Regions from separate parts of the Homo sapiens genome. Here regions 1, 2 and 4 are each linked to region 3. Evidence: fine-mapped expression QTL. A gene starts in region 3. Each other region holds a variant in brackets. All regions are shown on one strand. Distances are from middle to middle.

Region 1 (5,190 bases), 28 kb before region 3:
GTTTCCACAGGGCTGGCGGGGGCGGCTTATCTTCCGCGCTCACCTCACCCATGGGCTCCTATCTGTGTCTCCCCAGAGAGCTGGCCGCAGTGCTGGGGCCAGGCCCTTGCCCAGGAGACATTCGATAAAGGGCCACTTTGGTTACCAGGAAGACGAAATCTCAGACGTAGGTCAGGAGTTAGCTGGCAAAGCCTCTGGAAGAAGGAGCCCCCTCCCCAGCCTCTGCCCAAGGCCCCCTACGGCTCAATGCCCAGGACAGAGGCTCGAAGCCCTTGCTCTTGACCCTTCAGGAGGCCAGACCCTCCAGCTCTGCACCTTGTTCCCAACACATCGGTCACAATAAATTTTTTTTTTGTTTTTTTTTGAGACGGGGTCTCGCTCTGTCGCCCAGGCTGGAGTGCAATGGCGCGATCTCGGCTCACTGCAAGCTCCGCCTCCCTGGTTCACACCATTCTCCTGCCTCAGACTCCCTAGCAGCTGGGACTACAGGCGCCCGCCACCACGCCAGGCTAATTTTTTGTATTTTTAGTAGAGACGGGGTTTCACCGTGTTAGCCACGATGGTCTTGATCTCTTGACCTCGTGATCCGCCCGCCTCGGCCTCCCAAAGTGCTGGGATTACAGGCGTGAGCCACCATGCCCGACCTCTTTTTTTTTTTTTTTTAAAGACAGAGTCTCCCTGTTACCCAGGCTGGAGTGCAGTGGCATGATATCAGCTCACTGCAACCTTCACCTCCCAGGTTCAAGCGATTCTCTTGCCTCAGCTTCCTGAGTGGCTGGGATTACAGGCGTGCGCCAACACGCCCAGCTAATTTTTGTATTTTTAGTAGAGATGGGGTTTCACCATGTTGGCCAGGCTGGTCTTGAACTCCTGACCTCAGGTGATCCACCCGCCTCAGCCTCCCAAAGTGCTGGGATTACAGGTGTGAGCCACCACGCCCGGCCTCACTATAAATCTTTAACCCAGAACCAAATGGGGGTCTCAACAAAGGAAGAAATTTTCTATGAAGCAAGAAAGGATGTCATGCTTTTCTCCCGGAAAAACACACCTCAATCCATTTCCCAAATGCGCTCTCCAAACCACGTTTGCCCACCCTCAACACACGGCCCTCCTAAGACAGCACTGGAAACCGAATGCGGGTCAGAGTCGGCTAAAAACGACTTTCTCACTATTTCCTGCGCTGAATCGGGTGGCCAGGGCCCCCTCACTGTGACCTTGGAACCTCGACTTCCCACAGGGCTGTTTCCTCGCCTGTAAAGGAGGAGGGGCGTTCAGAGACCACCTCATTCTGGGTGCTGAATCCAGGCAGAATCAGAGGGAGATTCCGCCTTCCCTTCCACGCAGGGCCCCTCGAGGGAGCCTGCGAGGTCTTAAGAGTCTGGGAGAACACCCGGGGGCAGGTGCACGCCCTAGGCAAGACGCCAGGGCTAAATCCCGTGAAGAACGGTAATCCCTTCCCGATCCGGAGGGCTGACCCACTCAGAGCCTCCATGTGCTCTTGGAGGACAAAAGCCCCTTTTCCAGAAGGGAGCGCCAAGATGATCGCTCCAGGCCGCACGGGCCCTTGCGGGGGCCCCAGAGAGTCTCAGGGGAGGGTCTCTGACCCTAACACTCGCAGGCAGGGTGGACCCGTCTCCAGATTCCACGCCCAGGCCGCTTTCCCCAGGTCCTGCGGAGTCCAGCCCCAGCAGGACGGGTTGGGCAGGCACCAACCAGCCCCTGACCCCTGGCTCCAGGCCAAAGGGGACGCTCACCCAGGCTTTGGGTCTCCCTTCTCCTGGCCGATGGGACCGGCGGGCGGGCCACCTCCAACCGCCTTCGCAGACGCCCTCACCCAGGAAGCAGGTCACCCCCAACCCCAGGTGACCGAAAAGCAAGACGCCCACCTCCCCTGACCAAGACCGGCCTGGCCAGGACCCCCTGGCTCCCGCCTCCAAGCAGGGAGCTTCACGCCCACACACAGAGGCCGGGCTCGAGGCCGGAGCGCCCGGGGGAGCCCGGCAGGCCGCGCCGGGAGGAACCTCTAGTCCCCCCTCAAACCCTGGGACTTCACCCCCAAGCTCCATGCTGGCGCGGGAAGCCCCCGGGGCCGGCCTTTCGCACCCCAGGCCGCCCCGCGCCGAGGCCCCAGGCTCCCGTCGGCTTCGGGTCGGCACCGCGGCCTCCATTCCCGGCCCCTGCAGGACCGCACCCCCGCCCCCTACCCGCTCCTCACCAGCCCCGGAGGCTCCGTGGGTGCCCAGCAGCGCGAATCCCAGCAGCACGAACAGCGCAGCCGCCATGATTCCTATTCCTCGCCGGTCCTACAACCTCCAACCGCTGCCGCCGCCGCCCGCGGCCGCTATAAAAAGCGGCGGAGGCGCGGACCGGGCGCGCGCACGCACGGCGTCATCTCGGGGGCGGGGCGAGCGCCGGGGACGCCGGTCGCCCCGCCTGCGCACGCGCGCACACGCTCGCATGTACGCGCCGGCTCCGGCAGGCTCACGCTACGGAATCCGGGCGGCGGCGCACGTGACCCGGCGTTGCTAGGAAACGGGAGTGGGGCCTGCGGGGACGCGGCTGGAGCCTGCGCATTTCTTCCTTCCTGCTTTCAAAGTTGCAATGAGCGCAGAGCGGTGCGCCCGAGGGGGTTGAAGCGTTGAAAGTGTGTTACCCAGATTTTATCTGAGTTAAACACGGGCCGGCCGCTGTGGCTCACGTCTGTACTCCCAGAGCCTTGGGAGGTCGAGGCGGGAAGATCGCTTGAGCCCGGGAGCTCGAGACCAGACGCGGCAACATGGCGAGACGCACATCTCTGCCTTTAAAAATGTACATATATATATATATATAT[G/ATG]AACGTATTAATAAATTAGGTGGGAGGAAGTGACCTCCTCCGCCCAAATAAAAATACTTAAAGGGCACTTGAATCTGGATCTCAGAAAATGAATAATTTCTTAGTATAAACGTCCTGTGCACCATTTGGTTGGGACAAGTAAGTTCCTCTTCAGAAACTCAACTTCCAGGTCTAAAGTTGTCAATCAACCTTACCCCCTTCTTCTTTCCTCGCAGGTGGCGCGTTTACCCTATTTTAAAAAAGTTTTAAGTTTTAGCCAACCGGGATCAGCTTAGATTGTGGGCGTCCAACCCCAGCCAACAGGGAAAGGACAGAGGAACAGAAGCTCCCTTCCTTTGTCCCGTGTGCTCTGGAGATTGCATCCCACGCAGGCAGCCCCCTTCCGTACAAGTAAAGTGGTCTCGCTGAGAAATTTTCTAAGTGCTGGTTTCTCTTTGCGGGACCGACTCGCCGCCCCCAAATATCCCATTTGGATCCCATTCTGTTTCAGGAGAGGCTGGCGGTTACCTTTCTTGGGGAGACGCGTCCGACTGCTTCATTGTGGGGGCCTCAGGAGCGGAGGATCGGGTCCCGCCCGAGGTGACGCGTAAACCCAGACTCTCAGCAACGCGGGTAGGAAGGACCCTTGAAGTTCCGCGGCGACCACGGTGAGAAAAGTCGCTATTGGGGCGACACAGGTGGGGGCGTCTCTTGGAGGTTGAAAGTGTGTGTTGGAAGTTAAACTCGGAGTCGCAATGCAAGAGGACCGCAGACTAAGCCGAACGCGAAGGGCTAACTGGAAAGGGGCAGGAATGTGGCTACACTGGCGGGAAGAGCCCGTGGCGACGGGAGGGGGATGTGCAGAGTGGGTGGCAGGTGCCATCTCTGCAGATCAGGACCGGCGGGAAACTTGTTTACTGAGACTCAGACGGGGAGGCCCAGAGGGTGAGGAAGTCAGGTTGGCCTTGGAAGTAGGAAACGAAGAACGAGGGCGCTGAACGAGCCAAACCTTTGAAGAGGAACTTGTGAATGAATGAGACGCGCCATATCTTTTGTGTGTGTGTGTGTTGGAGTCTCGCTGTGTCACCCAGGCTGGAGTGCAGCGGCGCGATCTCGACTCTCTGCAACCTCCGCCTCCCGGGTTCAAGCGATTCTCCTGCCTCAGCCTCCTGAGTAGCTGGGATTACAGGCGCGCACCACCACGCCCGGCTAATTTTTGTATTTTTAGCAGAGACGCCCCATATCTAAAGAAGGGTGGGATCCTCTAGACCACCTTCCCCCACTCACCCCTCCGCCCCTCCCAACCCACCCCCTCCGCCCCTCCCAACCCACCCCCTCCGCCCCTCCCAACCCACCCCCTCCGCCCCTCCCAACCCACCCCCTCCGCCCCTCCCAACCCACCCCTCCGCCCCCCCCACCCACCCACCCCACCCCTCCGCCCCTCCCCAACCCGCCCCTCCGCCCCTCCCACCCACCCCTCGCCCCTCCGCCCCTCCCCCACCCGCTCCTCCGCCCCTCCATCCCTCCCCTATAGAACCACCTGGACCTTGCCACCCACATCCCCGCTGGACAGCCACTAGAACATGCCCCTTCCTCAGGAAAGCTCCAACGGGAAACAGAACAATGCCAAAGGGATATTCGAAACTTTCGGCCGGGCGCGGTGGCTCACGCCTGTAATTCCAGCACTTTGGGAGGCAGAGGCGGGTGGATCACGAGGCCAGGAGTTCAGGACTGGCAGCCTGGCCACGATGATGAAACCTCGCCTCTACTAAAAATACGAAAATTAGCCGGACGTGGTGGCGGGCGCCTGTAATTCCAGCTACTCAGCTACTCGGGAGGCTGAGGCAGGGAATGTCTTGAACCCGGGAGGTGGAGCTTGCAGTGAGCCGAGATCGCGCCACCGCACTCCAGCCTCGGCAACAAGAGCGAGACTCCGTCTCAAAAAACAAACAAACAAACAAAAACCCACAGAACTTTCCTTTTGCCTCCTGCTCAAAAAGACCTGCCTCAGCCCTTTTCCCCTTTAGGGAAGGACCACCGGGAGGAAGGGATATTGACTTCGTAAATGCCCCCTTTAACCAGTTCAGAGGTTAGAAATCTAAAAGAACTCAAACCACTGTTAGATGACCCTTTTGGATTCGCGGATCAAATTGACCAATTTCTGGGGCCACAGCTGTACGCTTGGGCTGAATTAATGTCTACCCTCAGTACTCTCGTCTCAGGAGAGAGAGAACCATGATTCACAGGCCGCTGTGTTAGTCTGGGAGCGTGAACACCCCCCGGTCAGAACGTCCTTTCAGCGGAGCGTAAATTCCTGGCCCAAGATCCTGGGTGGGATGACAATGTGACCTAAAAAACATGAGCGATCTCGGAGATGGGAT
Region 2 (5,000 bases), 27 kb after region 3:
ACGAAGCAGGTGAGTGTGCCCGCGCGGAAGACGCTCAGCGGCACCGCCTCGTGGTCACGGCACTGCACCTTGCGCAGCAGCGGCGCCACCACCTCCTCGGGGGCTTGGCCGTCCCGGCAGATGCGCCTGAGCAGCTCGCTGTAGGTGCGCCCGTCCAGCCCCGGCCTCTTCCTGCGCCCGCCGGCGCTCAGGCACTCGTAGGCCACGCTCACGTTGTTGTTGAAGGCGGCCCTGCGGAGACGGGGACGTTGGGGGCCGGCAGAGACCGCGCGCCCACCCAGCCCCAGCCTCCCCTCCTCGCCAGGCCTATGCCCTAGCCTCCCCGACCCCCCAGCCAGCCCTGGCCTCCCCTCTCCTCCTACCCCCCATCCCCGGCCTCCCCTCCTCCTCACCCTCTATCCCTGAAGCTCCTCTCTTGAGCCCCCGCCTCCCTTCTCCCAGCTAGGGCCTCTCCTCCCCGCAGCATCCCCAGCCCGGGCCTCTCCTCCCCCAAGCATCCCCAGCCCGGGCCTCTCCTCCCCCCAGCATCCCCAGCCCAGGCCTCCCTCCTCCCAGTCCCCTCCCAGCCCAGGCCTCCCTCCCCCAAGCATCCCCAGCCTGGGCCTCTCCTCCCCCAGCATCTCCAGCCCAGGCCTCCTCCTCTCAGCCCCCTCCCAGCCCTGGCCTCTCCTCCCCCCAGTATCCCAAGCCCAGGCCTCCCTCCTCCCAGCCCCTACCCAGCCCGGGCCTCCCTCTTCCCAGCCCCTACTCAACCTGGGCCTCCCCTCCCCACCCCACCAGCACTCCCAGCCTGGGCCTCCCTCCTCCCAGCCCCTACCCAGCCTGGACCTCCCCTCCTCCCAGCTCCCACCCAGCCTGGCCTCCCTCCTCCCAGCCCCTACCCAGCCGGGGCCTCCCTCTTCCCAGCCCCTACTCAACCTGGGCCTCCCCTCCCCACCCCACCAGCACTCCCAGCCTGGGCCTCCCTCCTCCCAGCTCCCACCCAGCCTGGCCTCCTTCCTCCCAGCACCCCCCAGCCCGGGGCTCCCTCCTCCCAGCACCCACCCAGCCAGGCCTTCCTCCTCCCAGCACCCCCTCAGCCTGGGCCTCCCCTCCCCACCAGCACCCCCAGCCTCGGCCTCCTCCCAACCTGGATCTCCCTCCTCCCAGCCTCTACCCAGCCTGGGCCTCCTCCCAACCTGGATCTCCCTCCTCCCAGCCTCTACCCAGCCTGGGCCTCCTCCTCCCAGCCCCCACCCAGCCTGGCCTCCCTCCTCCCAGCACCGCCCAGCCCGGGCCTCCCCTCCCCACCAGCACCCCCAGCCTCGGCCTCCTCCTCCCAACCTGGGTCTCCCTCATCCCCGCCTCCACCCAGCCTGGCCTCCCCCGTCCCAGCCCCTACCCAGCCTCGGCCTCCTCCTCCCAGCACCCCCCAGCCTGGCCTCCCCCCTCCCAGCCCCCACCCAGCCTGGCCTCCGTCCTCCCAGCACCCCCCAGCCTGGGTCTCCCCCCTTCTAGCCCCCACCCAGCCTGGCCTCCCTCCTCCCAGCCCCCACCCATCCTGGCCTCCCCCCTCCCAGCCCCCACCCAGCCTGGCCTCCGTCCTCCCAGCACCCCCCAGCCTGGGCCTCCCCCCTTCCAGCCCCCACCCATCCTGGCCTCCATCCTCCCAGCCCCCACCCAGCCTGGCCAGCCCCCACCCAGCCTGGCCTCCCCCCTCCCAGCCCCCACCCAGCCTGGCCTCCCCCCTCCCAGCCTCCACCCAGCTCAGGCCTCTCCTCCCCGCAGCTCCCATCCAGCCCTGGCTTCCCAGCTCCAACTGGACCGGCCTCAGGGCCTCTGCAAGGGCCGTGACACTGCCTTCCCCCAGATCTCCCTCACCTCCTCCCTGGTCTCCTCCAGGTCTCTCCTCAAATGTCGCCTCCCCTGACCCCTAACTCCTTTCCTCCTGTTTTCTTCCTAGTGGTCATCCTGTCTCACTCGCTGTCCCACATCCCTGTGAGCTTCATGTCTCCCACCAGTGTGAGCACCTGCCCTCCAGGGCCGGAAGTTCGTCTTGGTTATAGCCCTGGTGCCCAGAACACTGCCCTGCCCACAGTAGGTGCTCAGTAAATGTCTTGAATCAACGGCAGGCATCTGTCTGGGGCATCTGGCCCCAGTGAAGAAGGAATTAGTGAAATCAGCTCTAACCTAATAGTAGTAGTCATAGAAATTTTAAAATCCTCTTAAAGTTGCTGCAAAGTGTGACCCCCACCCTTACACTCAAGTTAAAAGAGAATGTTAACAGCCTGTCTTCTCTCTGTAGTCAGTGGACCTTATCTATACTCTCCAACTCCACATTCCTCAGTTTATTACAGGCCCAGCGAGTTCCTGCTTACCTCCCTAGCACGGCTGCAGGGTCACAAAACCG[A/G]TAAGTTTAGGTTGTAAGACATGTTTTTCTCAAGATGTGAGAAATGTTGGCCAGGCACGGTGGCTCACGCCTGTAATCCCAGCACTTTGGGAGGCCGAGGTGGGAGGATCACAAGGTCAAGAGATTGAGGCCATCCTGGCCAACATGGTGAAACCCCATCTCTACTAAAAATACAAAAATTAGCGGGACGTGGTGGTACACGTCTGTAGTCCCAGCTACTCGGGAGTCTGAGGCAGGAGAATCGCTTGAACCTGGGAGGTGGAGGTTGCGGTGAGCCAAGATGGCGCCACTGCACTCCAGCCTGGGCGACAGAGCGAGACTCCGTCTCAAAAAAAAAAAAAAGAAAAAGAAAAAAGAAATGCTGTAATGCTTAACTGCCTTTGTTTCTCGCCTCTGTAACTTGCTTCCCGCCTCACGTAGTTCCCGCCTTACGATGTTTAAAAATAGGAAAAGCCCTTTGTTCGAGGCTCAGACTTTCTGGATGTATGTCCAGCTGAGCCGGTGATCACCTTGATAAACTCTCCTGAACCTTTTTCGGTCTCTCCACTCTTTGTCCCACAACACCAGGACCCTCTGGTCTCCCTCCCTGCAGCAGCAGCGCCTGTTTACATGTGGCCAAATACTGTGCCCAACATTTAACACAACTGACATTTGTTTTTTTCTTTTCTTTCTTTCTTTCTTCCTTTTTTTTTTTTTTTTGAGACGGAGTCTCGCTCTGTCGCCCGGGCTGGAGTGCAGTGGCGGGATCTCGGCTCACTGCAAGCTCCGCCTCCCGGGTTCACGCCATTCTCCTGCCTCAGCCTCCCAAGTAGCTGGGACTACAGGCGTCCGCCACTATGCCCGGCTAATTTTTTGTATTTTTAGTAGAGACGGGGTTTCACCGTTTTAGCCGGGATGGTCTCGATCTCCTGACCTCGTGATCCACCCGCCTCGGCCTCCCAAAGTGCTGGGATTACAGGCGTGAGCCACCGCGCCCGGCCCTCTTTCTTTTTTTGAGACAGTGTCTCACTCTGTTGTCAGGCTGGAGTGCAGTGGCACAATCTCAGCTCACAGCAACCTCCACCTCCCGGGTTCAAGCGATTCTCCTGCCTCAGCCTCCTGAGCTGCTGGGATTACAGGCGTGTGTTACCACACCCAGCTAATTTTTGTATTTTTAGTAGAGACGGGGTTTCACCATGTCGGCCAGGATGGTCTGGATCTCGAGTGACCTCGTGGTCCGCCCACCTCGGCCTCCCAAAGTGCTGGGATTACAGGTGTGAGCCACTGCGCCCAGTCTGTGCTGAACATTTAACACAGCTGACATTGCATTTTTTCTTTTTTTTTTTTTTTTGAGACAGGGTCTCACTGTGTTGTGCAGGCTGGAGAGCAGTGGTACAATCAGGGCTCACAGCAGCCTCCACCTCCTGGGCTCAAGCGATCCTCCTGCCTCAGCCTCCCAAACTGCTGGGATTACAGGTGACAGTTGCTGCTCGGGGCCAGTGGTGGTATTTCTCTCCCCACAATCCCACAGGCAAGGCCCCACAGTCAGCCTGAGGGTCAAATACGACCTGCTGCCTGCTTTTGTAAATAAAGCTTTATCGGAACATAACCACATCAGTCCGCTGACATGTGGCCTGTGGCAGCTTCCGACCAGAACCGTAGAGCTGAATGTCAGGATGGAGGCTGCCACGCAAAGCTGAAATGTTCACTATCTGGCCCCTTACAGAAGAAGGCTGTCAGCCCTGCTGCCGGCTCTGGGGTGGGTTCGATTCCCTGCCCCAGTGAGGAGCCTGAGGCCTTACTACGTGCCACTCGTGTGCTGGTAGTGTGACACACACTCCCGTGGAGGGCACCAGGGAGTGGCCAGGGAGCACCGTGGCCAGCGTGGGGGCCGCTGCAGGACCCTGGGTGGGCTGCTTAACCCCCTGGCCTCACTCCCCCCATCAGTTCCCGGCCAGGCCTCATGCTAGTGGCCTGTTACTTCCTCTGGGACATATAGGGAAACTGAGGCTCAGGGCAGCCCCATGGTCTGGCCAAGGGTCCCAGAGAGGAAGTGGCCAACCTCAGGGCTTACGCTTTTCCCTTCTGGGAGCTCAGCTTCATGGTGAGGAGGGCAGCCTTCCCTCCGGCATGACCTGGGCACACGACTTCACCTTTCTGTGGGCCACCTGTGGTAGGTGCCGGGGAAGTGCTAAGCCAGCATGCAGTAGGTGCTCAGTAAATGCAGGGTTGGTGTGCAGCAGGTGCTCAGTAATGCAGGGCTGGTACACAGTAGGTGCTCAGTGATGCTGGGCCAGAATGCAATAGGTGCTCAGTAAATGTGGGGCTGGTGTGCAATAGGTACTCAGTAATGCTGGGGCGGTGTGCAGTGGGTGCTCAGTAAATGCTGGGCCAGTAAGCAATAGGTGCTTAGTAAACGTGGGGTCGGTGTGCAGTGGGTGCTCAGTAATACAGGGCCGGTGTAGAGTAGGTGCTCAGTGAATGCAGGGCCAGTACACGGTAGGTACTCAGTAATGCTGGGGCGGTGTGCAGTGGGAGTGAAGTAAATGCTGGGCCAGCATGCAATAGGTGCTCAGTAAATGTAGGGTCAGTGTGCAGTGGGTGCTCAGTAATACAGGGCTGGTGTACAGTA
Region 3 (5,222 bases):
TGCCACCACGCCTGGATAATTTTTGTATTTTTAGTACAGATGGGGTTTCACCATGTTAGCCAGGCTGGTCTCGAACTCCTGACCTTGTGATCCACCCATCTCAGCCTCCCAAAGTGCTGGGATTACAGGTATGAGCCACTGCACCTGGCCATTTTTTTTTTTTTTTTGAGATGGAGTCTCACTCTGTTACCCAGCCTGGAATGCAGTGCCGTGATCTCAGCTCACTGCAACCTCTGCCTCCTGGGTTCAAGCGATTCTCCTGCCTCAGCCTCCCGAGTAGCTGGGATTACAGAAGCGCATCACCACGTCCGGCTAATTTTTTTGTATTTTTAGTAGCGACAGGGTTTCGCCGTGTTGGCCAGGCTGGCCTCAAACACCTAACCTCAGGTGATCCACCCTCCTTGGCCTCCCAAAGTGCTGGGATGACAGGCGTGAGCCACTGTGCCCAGCAAGAAATGTAGTCTTTAAATAAGTAAATTGTATAGTGCATAATTTCCTAATAAAGCTGTACAAAAATTATTTTAAATCAATCATAAATATAAAAGGATTGATTTCATAATGTAACGTAAATCAGCTCAAAATCTTCTCTGAATCCCCATCATGCTTTGAAAATCAAGTCCCCGCTTGCGGGCCGGTGCAGTGGCTCACGCCTATAATCCCAGCACTTTGGGAGGTCAAGGTGGGCAGACAGCCTGAGGTCAGGAGTTGGAGATCAGCCTGGCCAATGTGGTAAAACCCCGTCTGTACTAAAAATACAGAAATTAAGGCCGGGTGCGGTGGCTCACGCCTGTAATCCCAGCACTTTGGGAGGCCGAGGCAGGTGGATCACGAGGTCAGGAGATCGAGACCATCCTGGCTAACACGGTGAAACCCCGTCTCTACTAAAAATACAAAAAATTAGCCGGGCGAGGTGGCGGGCATCTGTAATCTCAGCTACTTGGGAGGCTGAGACAGGAGAATCGCTTGAACCCGGGAGGCAGAGGTTGTGGTGAGCCGAGATCGTGCCATTGCACTCCAGCCTGGGCAAGAATAGCAGAACTCCATCTTAAAAAAAAAAAATAGGCCGGGCGCGGTGGCTCACGCCTGTAATCCCAGCGCTTTGGGAGGCCGAGGCAGGCGGATCACCTGAGGTTGGGAGTTTGAGACCAGCCTGACCAACACGGGGAAACCCTGTCTCTACTAAAAATACAAAATTAGCCCGGCATGGTGGCAGGCGCCTGTAATCCCAGCTACTCGGGAGGCTGAGGCAGGAGAATCGCTTGAAACCAGGAGGCGGAGGCTGCAGTGAGCCGAGATGGCACCATCGCACTCCAGCCTGGGTGACAAGAGTGCAAGTCTAGCTGTGCCTGCAAGCTGCCTGCACCCTGGGCCTTTGTCTGTCTCACTTAGCTGCCTGCGTACCTTTCCCCCACCGGCTTCCTCCCTTGGTTTATGCTCGTCTCCTGCAACGGCCCCCCACCCGCCCTCTTGCCCTCCGTGTTTCCTCCGCTCTGCACAGTCTCATGCCTGGCCTGTCTCTTCCAGTCAGACAGGAGGGCAGGCCTAGAACAGCACGAGCCCTGCAAATACGGATGGATACACAGAAGCACGGGAGAAAGGAAGGAGGGATGGAAGGAGGAATGGATGATGGATGGATGGGAGGGAGGAGGGAAGGAGGGGGGAAAGGAAGAGAGAGGCATGATGGATGGATGGGTGGATACATGGAAGGAGGGAGGGAAGGATGACGGGTGGAGGGAAGGAGGGAGGTTGAAAGGAGGGATGGATGATGGATGGACGGGTGGGTGGAAGAATGGGAGGAAGGAGGAATGATGGGTGGATGGACTGGCGGAGGGAAGGAAGGGGGAACGAAAGGAGGGAGGGAGGGATGGATGATGGACCCATGGGTAGAGGGATGGATGATGGATGGGTGGGTGGAAGAATGGAAGGAGGAATGATGGGTGGACGGACGGGTAGAGGGAAGGAAGGGGAGATGAGGGAGGGAGGGAGGGAGGGAGGGAGGGATGATGGACCCATGGGTGGAAGGAAATAAAAATGGGAGGAAGGATGATGATGACTGACGGCTGGATTCCTACCTCTGTCCATCTTCTTGGGTCCCCAACTCATCAAGAGCCCCTGTCACTCAGTCCAGCTGGAATGCAGGGGAGCCGCCACCCACCTCCCTTCTCCCTCACTGCTGGGCACCTAGTCCCAGCCAAGCCCTTGGTGGTGGCAGGCAGCCAGCGGGGATCGAGTCCCAGCTCTGCCCTCCCAGCTGGGCAGTCCTAGGTCAGCATCTCCTTCGCCAAGTCTCAGTCTCCTACTCTGCACCTCGGGTGTGAGCGTGACCCCTGCCTTCTGGCTGCTGCCGGGAGGATGGGCGAGGTGAGCCGGTGGACACCACACTCTCCCACGGTCCCGGGATGTCCACTCGGGGTGAAGCGTGAGGAGCTCGGGATGCCCCAGGCCTCAGTCCCCCTCCAAACAAGGATGAATCTCCGCTCTTACACCCAGGATGTCGGCGCCCGCGCCCACCCCTCCCATCCAGGGACCCACCGAGAGCGCTGGGCCTCAGTGTCCCCCCTGCATCCCGGCTCCCACTCACCTACTGACAGGGCCCCCAGGGCCAGCACCAGCAGTGAAGACACGCAGGCCTCCATGCCGCTGTGGAGACCCAGTGTGGGTGCTGGCCCCGGCCCCGAGCCTCCCCACACGCGCTTCCTGTGGGGGAGGTGAGGTGACGGTCACAGCCCCGCCCACCGCTGCACACCCTCCACCCTCCATCCTTGAGCATTTTAGAAAGTGTTTCTCAAAGAGGACTCGAGATGAAGCCACACTACCATCATCACACCTGACAAAGTAACACTTTTTTTTTTTTTTTTTTTTCAGAGATGGAGTCTCGCTCTGTCGCCCAGGCTGGAGTGCGGTGGTGCGATCTCGGCTCACTGCAAGCTCCGCCTCCCGGGTTCACGCCATACTCCGGCCTCAGCCTCCCGAGTAGTGGGACTACAGGTGCCCACCACCACGCCCGGCTAATTTTCGTATTCTTAGTAGAGACGAGGTTTCACCATGTTGACCAGGCTGGTCTCAAACTCCCGACCTCAGGTGATCCACCCACCTCGGCCTCCCAGTGCTGGGATTACAGGCATGAGCCACCGCGCCCGGCCACTACTTCCTGCCTCTGAATTGGTCTCTAGGGACCTCCCAGGAGTGGAATCACACAGGACCTGTTGCGTTGGCGTCTCTCCCAGCATGACGTCCTCAAGGTGCATCCAGGCTGTGGCCTGTGTCAGAGCCTCGCTCCTTTTTGTGGCTGTGTCACATCCCATTGTGTGGCTGGACCACGCTGTGTTTATGCATTCACCAGCGGACGGATATTTGCGCTGTTCTAGTTTTTGGTCTTCATGAATAAAGACACTGGCCGAAGGCGGTGGCTCACACCTGTAATCCCAGCACTTTGAGAGACTGGGGCAGGAGGATCGCTTGAGCCCAGGTTGGGGCTGCAGTGAGCCGTAATTGCACCACTGCTCTTCAGCCTGGGTGACAGAGCAAGACCCTGTCTCAAAAATAAATAAATTTAGGCCGGGCGCGGCGGCTCACGCCTGTAATCCCAGCACTTTGGGAGGCCGAGGCGGGCGATCACCTGAGGTTGGGAGTTCGAGACCATCCTGGCCAACATGGTGAAACCCCATCTCTACTAAAAATACAAAAATCAGCTGGGCATGGTGGTGGGAGCCTGTAGTCCCAGCTACTCAGGAGGCTGAGGCAGGAGAATCACTTGAACCCAGGAGGCGAGATCGCACCACTGCACTCCAGCCTGGGCAACACAAGACTGTGTCTCAAAAACAAAACCAAACCAAACCAAGCAGCTATGGATGATCCTGAGACCTGGGTGTGGCTGTGCCAGTAACACTTCACTCACAATAGGGGCGGACGCCAGGTTTGGTCCCGAGGGCCATGGTTTGCTGAGACCCCAGGGCCCCATTTTCTGTCCCAACTTGGTGGGAAACCTCATCCTCACAGCTCCTCGACCCTGAATCAGCCACTGAGCGACTTTCCGGGTGCCCAGAAGCGGAACGCAGGCAGGTTCCTGGAAGGCGGTGCCCCGGGAGGGCATGGGAGCTCCGAGCTTTCCTCCATGACATGTAATAAAACGATGCTGGGGACTTCCTGACACCAGGACGTGAGGTGCCTGCCCTGTGTGCCCAGGGCCACGGCTCCCCACCCCGAGGGTGTGCCTGGACGGAGCTGGAGCCGCCGGAGTGCTGATCGGGGGCATCTGTGGTCCTGGGAGCCCTGAGACGCTGAGATCAACGCCCAGGCGGCTGTGGACCCGCGACGAAGCTTTGCTGGATGCCTGCAGAGGCAGCTCCCGTCCCACTAGATGCACCTGGTCACAGGGAGGAGGAACTCTGGGGGCTTTCTGGCCGCCCCTGTCCCGCAGGCTGGGGGATGCTGCCCAGGCCTGTCTGACCCAAGTCATGGGAACGTACAGGCCGCGGGACCCGGCTGCTCCCCGTGCCTCCCAGGACAGGCCTCCCAGATCCACACCTGGCGTAGCCAGGGTCCCAGTGGGACTGGCCGTGTGCAGTCACTCATGGACGTGGAGGCTGCCTCTCCCTCCCAAGCACAGCTTCTCTGGCCTCTCATAAAGTAGTTTTATTTAGATTTCAAACAAACCAAAGCAGGGAAAAGAGTCGGCCACGGTGAATCCGTCCACTCTGTGCTGGACGTGGCTCCAGGACCTGGAGCTGACAGGCAGGACCGGGCCCCTCGGACCGCTACACCTGGGCCTCCCAGGCTGGTAGTGTCAGGAAACGGCCCCCCGCCCACGTTCCCAGCAGCGCCCCCGTGGCTCCTCCGGGGTGCGGCCAGTCCGGAAGCTGGGGGACCCCGGTAGAAGTCGGGCTCAGCTCCCCTCCCGAGGGGACAGGTGGGCCGGCCGCTCCCACCCTGGGCCCGTCCACCGAGCCCCGAGTGACGTGAGTGGCGGTGGGGCAGCCCCTCTTCTCTGAAGCACGTGAAAACCCAGAACAGACATGGGGAGGGAGAAAAAGCCAAAACGAAACAACCAGAGGAGACGGGGACCAGCACAAAACCTCCGTGAGGTAGTCTGTCGTCTAAGGAGCCACGGGTCCGGCCCTAGTGAGGTAAACTCGGCAAGTTTATTCTGGTGGTGTCAGGACTCCTCCGTGCCAGAGTCATCCTCATCGTCCCCGAAGCAGCTGTCGGCCTCCTCCTCCACC
Region 4 (5,220 bases), 37 kb before region 3:
AATCCCAGTACTGGACGCACCCCTGCTGTGACCACCAGAGCCCAGGGTGCACCTGCTCTCGGAAAACCCAACCCCGTCAGGCACAGACAGGAGCCAGGAGAGGGTGAGGGTGGAGGTGGGGGCGATCTTTATTGTGGCGGTGGGTGGGAGGGGGGTTCCCACGTGAGCCCTGGTGCTATAGAGAGCCGGCCGTCCTCCAGGGGTGAGCTGGGGAGGCTTCTGCGGTTCTGGAGTCCCGGCGATGGCGCCAGTTCCCCAGCAAACCCCCTCCAGAGCTGCCCCCGGATGCACAGACAAGGAGGGGGCTTGGGAGTGACTTGAGGCTGTGACGGGGTCGCCCTCGGTGTGGGCAAGTGAGTCCTCTGTGGCCAAGAGGTCAGAGTCGTCCCTGAGGCTGAGTCGAACACAGACCCGTGGCCCTCATAAAATTAAACATAAAAGCACAAAAATGGCGCAACCAGACAGCATTGGCTTCAGACAGGCAGGACACGGGGCCCCTCGTGTGACCTGTGACTTTCCACAAAGGGCAAGGACCTGGCACTGACTCCGGCCAGTGGAGAAGGCTGTGCCGCCCACCCGGCCATGACTCAGACCCAGAGGCTGAAAGCCACAGACGGGGCCGCAGGGCAGCAGCTCCCGGGCTCTCGTGAAACACTTCAGAAGGAAAAAAACCTAAGGAACAGAATCCTGAATGGAGAAAACCCAACTTTTTTAAAAAAGAAGGAAGTGTATGATGGGAATCTACGGGGTGGGTTTTCTTTAAGAGGTGAGAACTTGGAATCTTGCAAGCACTGGGAGTGGACTCCGGCGGCGGCGCAGACGTGGAGCAGGGAGCGTCCTCGGGCCACCTGTGGACAGGGAGGGGCGCTCAGACTGGACCCACCTCCCAGCGACCCACAGGCGGGACCCAGGAGCCCACACCTGGCTAGCAGATCCCGCCCACCACACCTGGCTCAGGAGTTCCCGCCCACCCACCCACCACACCTGGCTCAGGAGGAGCTCCCGCCCACCGCACCTGCCTCAGGAAGAGTTCCTCTGGCGGACGTTCTTGCCTTTGTCATTCTGGTGCTGCCCGCTGCTCTTCCTGGGGCACGAGGGGCCGGGTGAGAGGGTGTCCCCCGCAAGTCACTCTCTCCAAGTCACCCCTGCCCACCCCGGCCCCCAGGACCCCCGAATACTGAAGCCCAGGGGCTCTGCCTTTGTGTTTTAAAGGCCTGGGGCAGCAGGCCGCTCCTTGGGACCCCCGACCCCCACAGCTGGAACTTACAGGGGTGCAGAGCCGGCGTCGTCATCTGAAGAAGGACCGCCGCCATGAAAAAGAGGACGAGAGGACAGCCTGTCAGCACTGGCCCCACTCAGGCCCCGAGCAGGGGCATCTGTGCTGCCAGCCCTGCCCTCAGTGACCCCCAGGGGTGGCTCGGGGCAGCTCATCAGCCCCGGCCACGTGCATCTTCTGAGTGCTGTGGGGAAAGGCAGCCCTCCCCACCTGCAGGTGTGCTCCCCATGGTGAGCTGTCCCCATGGCCTCGTGGGCCTCACCCCTGCCCCACAGCGTTTTCCAGGAGCTGCCATCACAGGCCCCACACAGGCCTCGCCCCGGCACACGCAGCCCAAGGGGCAGAAGGGCTCCGCGAGGAGGCAGGCAGGGGCTGCCGGAGCACAGCATGGCTGACCTCAGGTTCCCGAGCCTGATCATGCAGAGCAGCAAGGGCCGGCTCACCACGGAGGACACTGGCTTGCAGCCAAGTGAGCGGGAGGGAAGGGCCGGGTGAGGCTGTGGGGCGGAGGTGCCGCCTCCTCCTCCCGGGGTCCCGCTGCCCACTGAGCCGCAGCTGCCCGGGGCTAGACCCTCCATCCCACACTTTCTTTCGGGGTCCCATCAACTCCCTGCCTGGGGCTCCTCAGTTCCAAGCTCTGGGTCAGCGGTGGGGCTGGCAGGGACGGACCAGGAGTGGCCCTGGGCCACCCCGAGAGCAGGGCATGTGGGCAGGAGGGCAGACGGCTCACCATCCAGGACGTCCTCGGGCTTCCGGCGCTTCTCGTAGATGAAGATGATGGTGACCAGCACCAGCACCTCAGCCACGATGCCCAGGAAGGGCCAGAGGGCGGCCAGGTGGCTGCGCACGCGGAGCGTGATGATGGCCTGGTCGGAGCCCTTGGAGCTGGTGCCGTTGCACCGGTACTGGCCGGGGTCGGCCTCCATGTTCAGGTTCTCAATGTGTAGCTCTGACCGGCCCTGCGAGGAACTCACGAAGAACCTGCTCTCGGAGCCGTTCATGAGGGCCTAGGGGACCAAAGGCAAGGGCTGAGTCCAGGACCCCCAGTCTAGGCCCCTCACCCAGTCCTGAGGGCTGAGTCCGGGACCCCCAGTCTAGGCCCCTCACCCAGTCCGGAGGGCTGAGTCCGGGACCCCCAGTCTAGGCCCCTCACCCAGTCCGGAGGGCTGGGTCCGGGACCCCCAGTCTAGGCCCCTCACCCAGTCCTGAGGGCTGGGTCCGGGACCCCCAGTCTAGGCCCCTCACCCAGTCTGGAGGGCTGCAGTCCAGAGGGCTGGGTCCGGGACCCCCAGTCTAGGCCCCTCACCCAGTCCGGAGGGCTGGGTCCGGGACCCCCAGTCTAGGCCCCTCACCCAGTCCGGAGGGCTGGGTCCGGGACCCCCAGTCTAGGCCCCTCACCCAGTCCTGAGGGCTGGGTCCGGGACCCCCAGTCTAGGCCCCTCACCCAGTCCTGAGGGCTGGGTCCGGGACCCCCAGTCTAGGCCTCTCACCCAGTCCTGAGGGCTGGGTCCAGGACCCCCAGCCTCCT[T/G]GGCTTCTCACCTTGTCCTCAGAGTCAGTGATCTTGTACCAGGCCCAGTCAGTGACAGGTGGCACGGACTCTGACTTGCAGACCAGCATGGCCGTCTCCCCCTCGTTGATGTGTTCTGACGACTTCACAGCCTTCACTCTGGGAGGCCCTGACAGGAGGGTGAGAGAGAGGAGCCTGGAACCGCAGGCCCGCCCCCATCCCCGGCCTCCCGCAGGAGGGCTGTTCCCCTCCAGGGAGCAGGGGGCCAGGGCTCTGGGATGTGCCGGGTGCCTCAGGCCAACAACTTCTCCCGACAGTCGGTGGTGCCCGGTACCCCTGGCTGCAGGACTCACCGTGGAGCTGGATGTTGGCCGTGCCCATGGGCTCGGGGAGGAAGACGCAGGAGTACTCTCCCCACTGGTCGTCGGAGTCCACCCTGCAACCACAGCAGGCAGGTGAGCCGCGTACCAGCTCTGCAGGACGCCTCCAAGGACCCAGGGTTCTCCAGGGGCCCAACCACGGCACAGTGAAAAAGCAAAACTGTCCCAGTCAAGTCTGAACCTCAAAAGAACTCCTGGGGTCCCCGTGCGGCCCCAAGGACAGAGCCAGGCTGGCAAGACCCCACAGGTGAGAGAACCAACAGACCCCCTTCTCCCCGACTGATGAACCCCACACCTCTGGTCCCTGCTCTGCACCCCACACCCTGTGACCGTCTTCCCAGTCAGCCTGAAAACAAAAGGCTCTGTGCTCCCAGGGCCGTCCCAGCCCCAGTTATGACAAAGCTCCGGCCATGACAGCGTCTGGGGTCCGAGCAGGGCATGCCTCAGTGTGGTGCCCTCTTGTGCCAGGAGCACAGAGCCTGGGAGGCCCGCACACGTGCCCGGGACCTGGCAGTGTGGCGCCCTTTCGTGCCCGGGACCTAGTGAGGAGCAAGCAATGGGGACTCCTGCCAGGGCTGCTGGAGCCCCCTGCCTCACAAGGACGCCCCTCAGACCCCTCCCTGGGGTTTCCCTCTGGGGGTCTGCGCGGAGCTGGTCCCTAACTTCCGCCTGGATCAAGCCTGCCGACCGGTCTTTTGTTCTCACGGACCACAGGCCGCTGGCGGCAAGAGAGCCGTGAGAAGGGGCAGGTGGCGGCATGGCGTGGTCAGGCACTCACTTGAACTCCGTTTTCTGGCCGGGCAGCGCGTCCTCCTTCAGCACCACGCCCCCCTTCAGCCAGCGGTGCCCTGTGACCTCTGTGGCGCTGTCATTCAAGGAGCAGGTGAGGAGTATCTTGGAGCCAAGGTCTTCTACGGTAGTGAAGACTGTGCCGGCTGCAAGGCCCGGCGAGACGCGGTCAGCAGAGTGGAGGAGCACGGCCCGCGCTGCCTGCCTGACCCCCAGGAACCTGCGGCTCCTCCCCGGGAAGGACTGGTTTTCATCCCAAAAATACACCGTGGCCCTTACGCCCCGAGGACCGGAGGCCCAAGGGGAACTTCTGGCCACGCCTCCGGGAAGGGAAGAGCCCAGCGCCTGCTGAGGAGGCCCCTTCGGGAAGGCACCCCCTTCGGGAAGGCACCCTTCGCTGGCAGCTGGCGGGCCCTGGGCTAAGGCGCTGGGAACCCAGAGGCCCCGCCTGGCGATGTTCCTGCCCAGAGACACACGAGGCTGGGACCAGGGTGTGGGGACAGACAAGGCACCCACCCACGTCCCTGAGCAGGGACCAGGGCATCGAGCTCTTGTAGCAGCCCCAGCACAAACTGGAAATTCTTTTCTAAAAACGTAGCCAGCTGGGCGCGGTGGTGGCCGGGCGCGGAGGCTCACGCCTGTAATCCCAGCACTTTGGGAGGCCAAGGCGGGTGGATCTCGAGGTCGGGAGATCGAGACCATCCTGGCTAACACGGTGAAACCCCGTCTCTTCTAAAAATACAAAAAATTAGCTGGGCATGTTGGCTCATGCCTGTAATCCCAGCTACTCAGGAGGCTGAGGCAGAAGAATCGCTTGAACCCGGGAGGCGGAAGTTGCAGTGAGCCGAGATTGTGCCACCACACTCCACCTGGGAACAGCAAGACTCCATCTCCAGGAAAAAAAAAAAAAATAGCCACAGCACCCCCGGCCAAGGCTCCCGTGCCCTTCTCTAGGAGGCACTCAGGTGGCCCCACATCCCCCCAGCCCCAGGCTGACGGCACTCCAGCAGTGCTGGGAGCACCCCGGTTCTTCTGCCAATCCCCAACCAAGCAAATCTCTTGGTTCTTGGTTAGTTTACAATATTCCCGCTAGGAATTGAAATTTGAAAATCCCTTAGAACGAGATGCTGCGAAGGACACAGAAGGTTCTGAGACCTGCAAGCCTGGGCTGAGCTTGGAGGGCCCCTCAGGCTTGCAGTATGGACGCTCAGGGAGGGAGCCGGGCAGGCGCCCGGGGAAGCAGAAACGACGGAACGGATGGCACGAGG

Evidence for each region. PIP is the estimated chance that this variant, and not a neighbour inherited with it, causes the effect.
Region 1: its variant is fine-mapped to the expression of GZMM in whole blood (INTERVAL, PIP above 0.99).
Region 2: its variant is fine-mapped to the expression of GZMM in whole blood (TOPMed, PIP above 0.99).
Region 4: its variant is fine-mapped to the expression of GZMM in whole blood (TOPMed, PIP 0.98).

The regions. Positions count from the first base shown.
Region 1 is chr19:569,727-574,916 of GRCh38, reverse strand. BSG (basigin (Ok blood group)) reads right to left here and starts at 2,321. Exons shown (of 9, transcript NM_001728.4): 1 at 2,216-2,321. The coding sequence starts at 2,282. BSG-AS1 (BSG antisense RNA 1) reads left to right here and starts at 2,669. Exons shown (of 3, transcript NR_184018.1): 1 at 2,669-2,808; 2 at 3,321-3,477. RefSeq lists silencers at 1,981-2,160, 2,331-2,550 and enhancers at 3,371-3,420, 3,501-4,073. The variant G/ATG (reference allele first, on the strand shown) is at 2,831.
Region 2 is chr19:514,120-519,119 of GRCh38, reverse strand. It overlaps TPGS1 (tubulin polyglutamylase complex subunit 1), which reads right to left. Exons shown (of 2, transcript NM_033513.3): 2 at 1-231. Among named protein-coding and RNA genes, the nearest start is that of MADCAM1-AS1, 8.7 kb to the right of the region's middle. RefSeq lists an enhancer at 1-662. The variant A/G (reference allele first, on the strand shown) is at 2,390.
Region 3 is chr19:541,486-546,707 of GRCh38, reverse strand. It overlaps GZMM (granzyme M), which reads right to left and starts at 2,655. Exons shown (of 5, transcript NM_005317.4): 1 at 2,582-2,655. The coding sequence starts at 2,636. It overlaps CDC34 (cell division cycle 34, ubiquitin conjugating enzyme), which reads right to left. Exons shown (of 5, transcript NM_004359.2): 5 at 4,621-5,222. The coding sequence ends at 5,156. RefSeq lists an enhancer at 2,642-3,287.
Region 4 is chr19:578,378-583,597 of GRCh38, reverse strand. It overlaps BSG (basigin (Ok blood group)), which reads right to left. Exons shown (of 9, transcript NM_001728.4): 3 at 3,942-4,098; 4 at 3,137-3,219; 5 at 2,816-2,952; 6 at 2,007-2,283; 7 at 1,268-1,292; 8 at 1,016-1,084; 9 at 105-848. The coding sequence ends at 1,021. Among named protein-coding and RNA genes, the nearest start is that of BSG, 8.4 kb to the right of the region's middle. RefSeq lists an enhancer at 1-221. The variant T/G (reference allele first, on the strand shown) is at 2,805.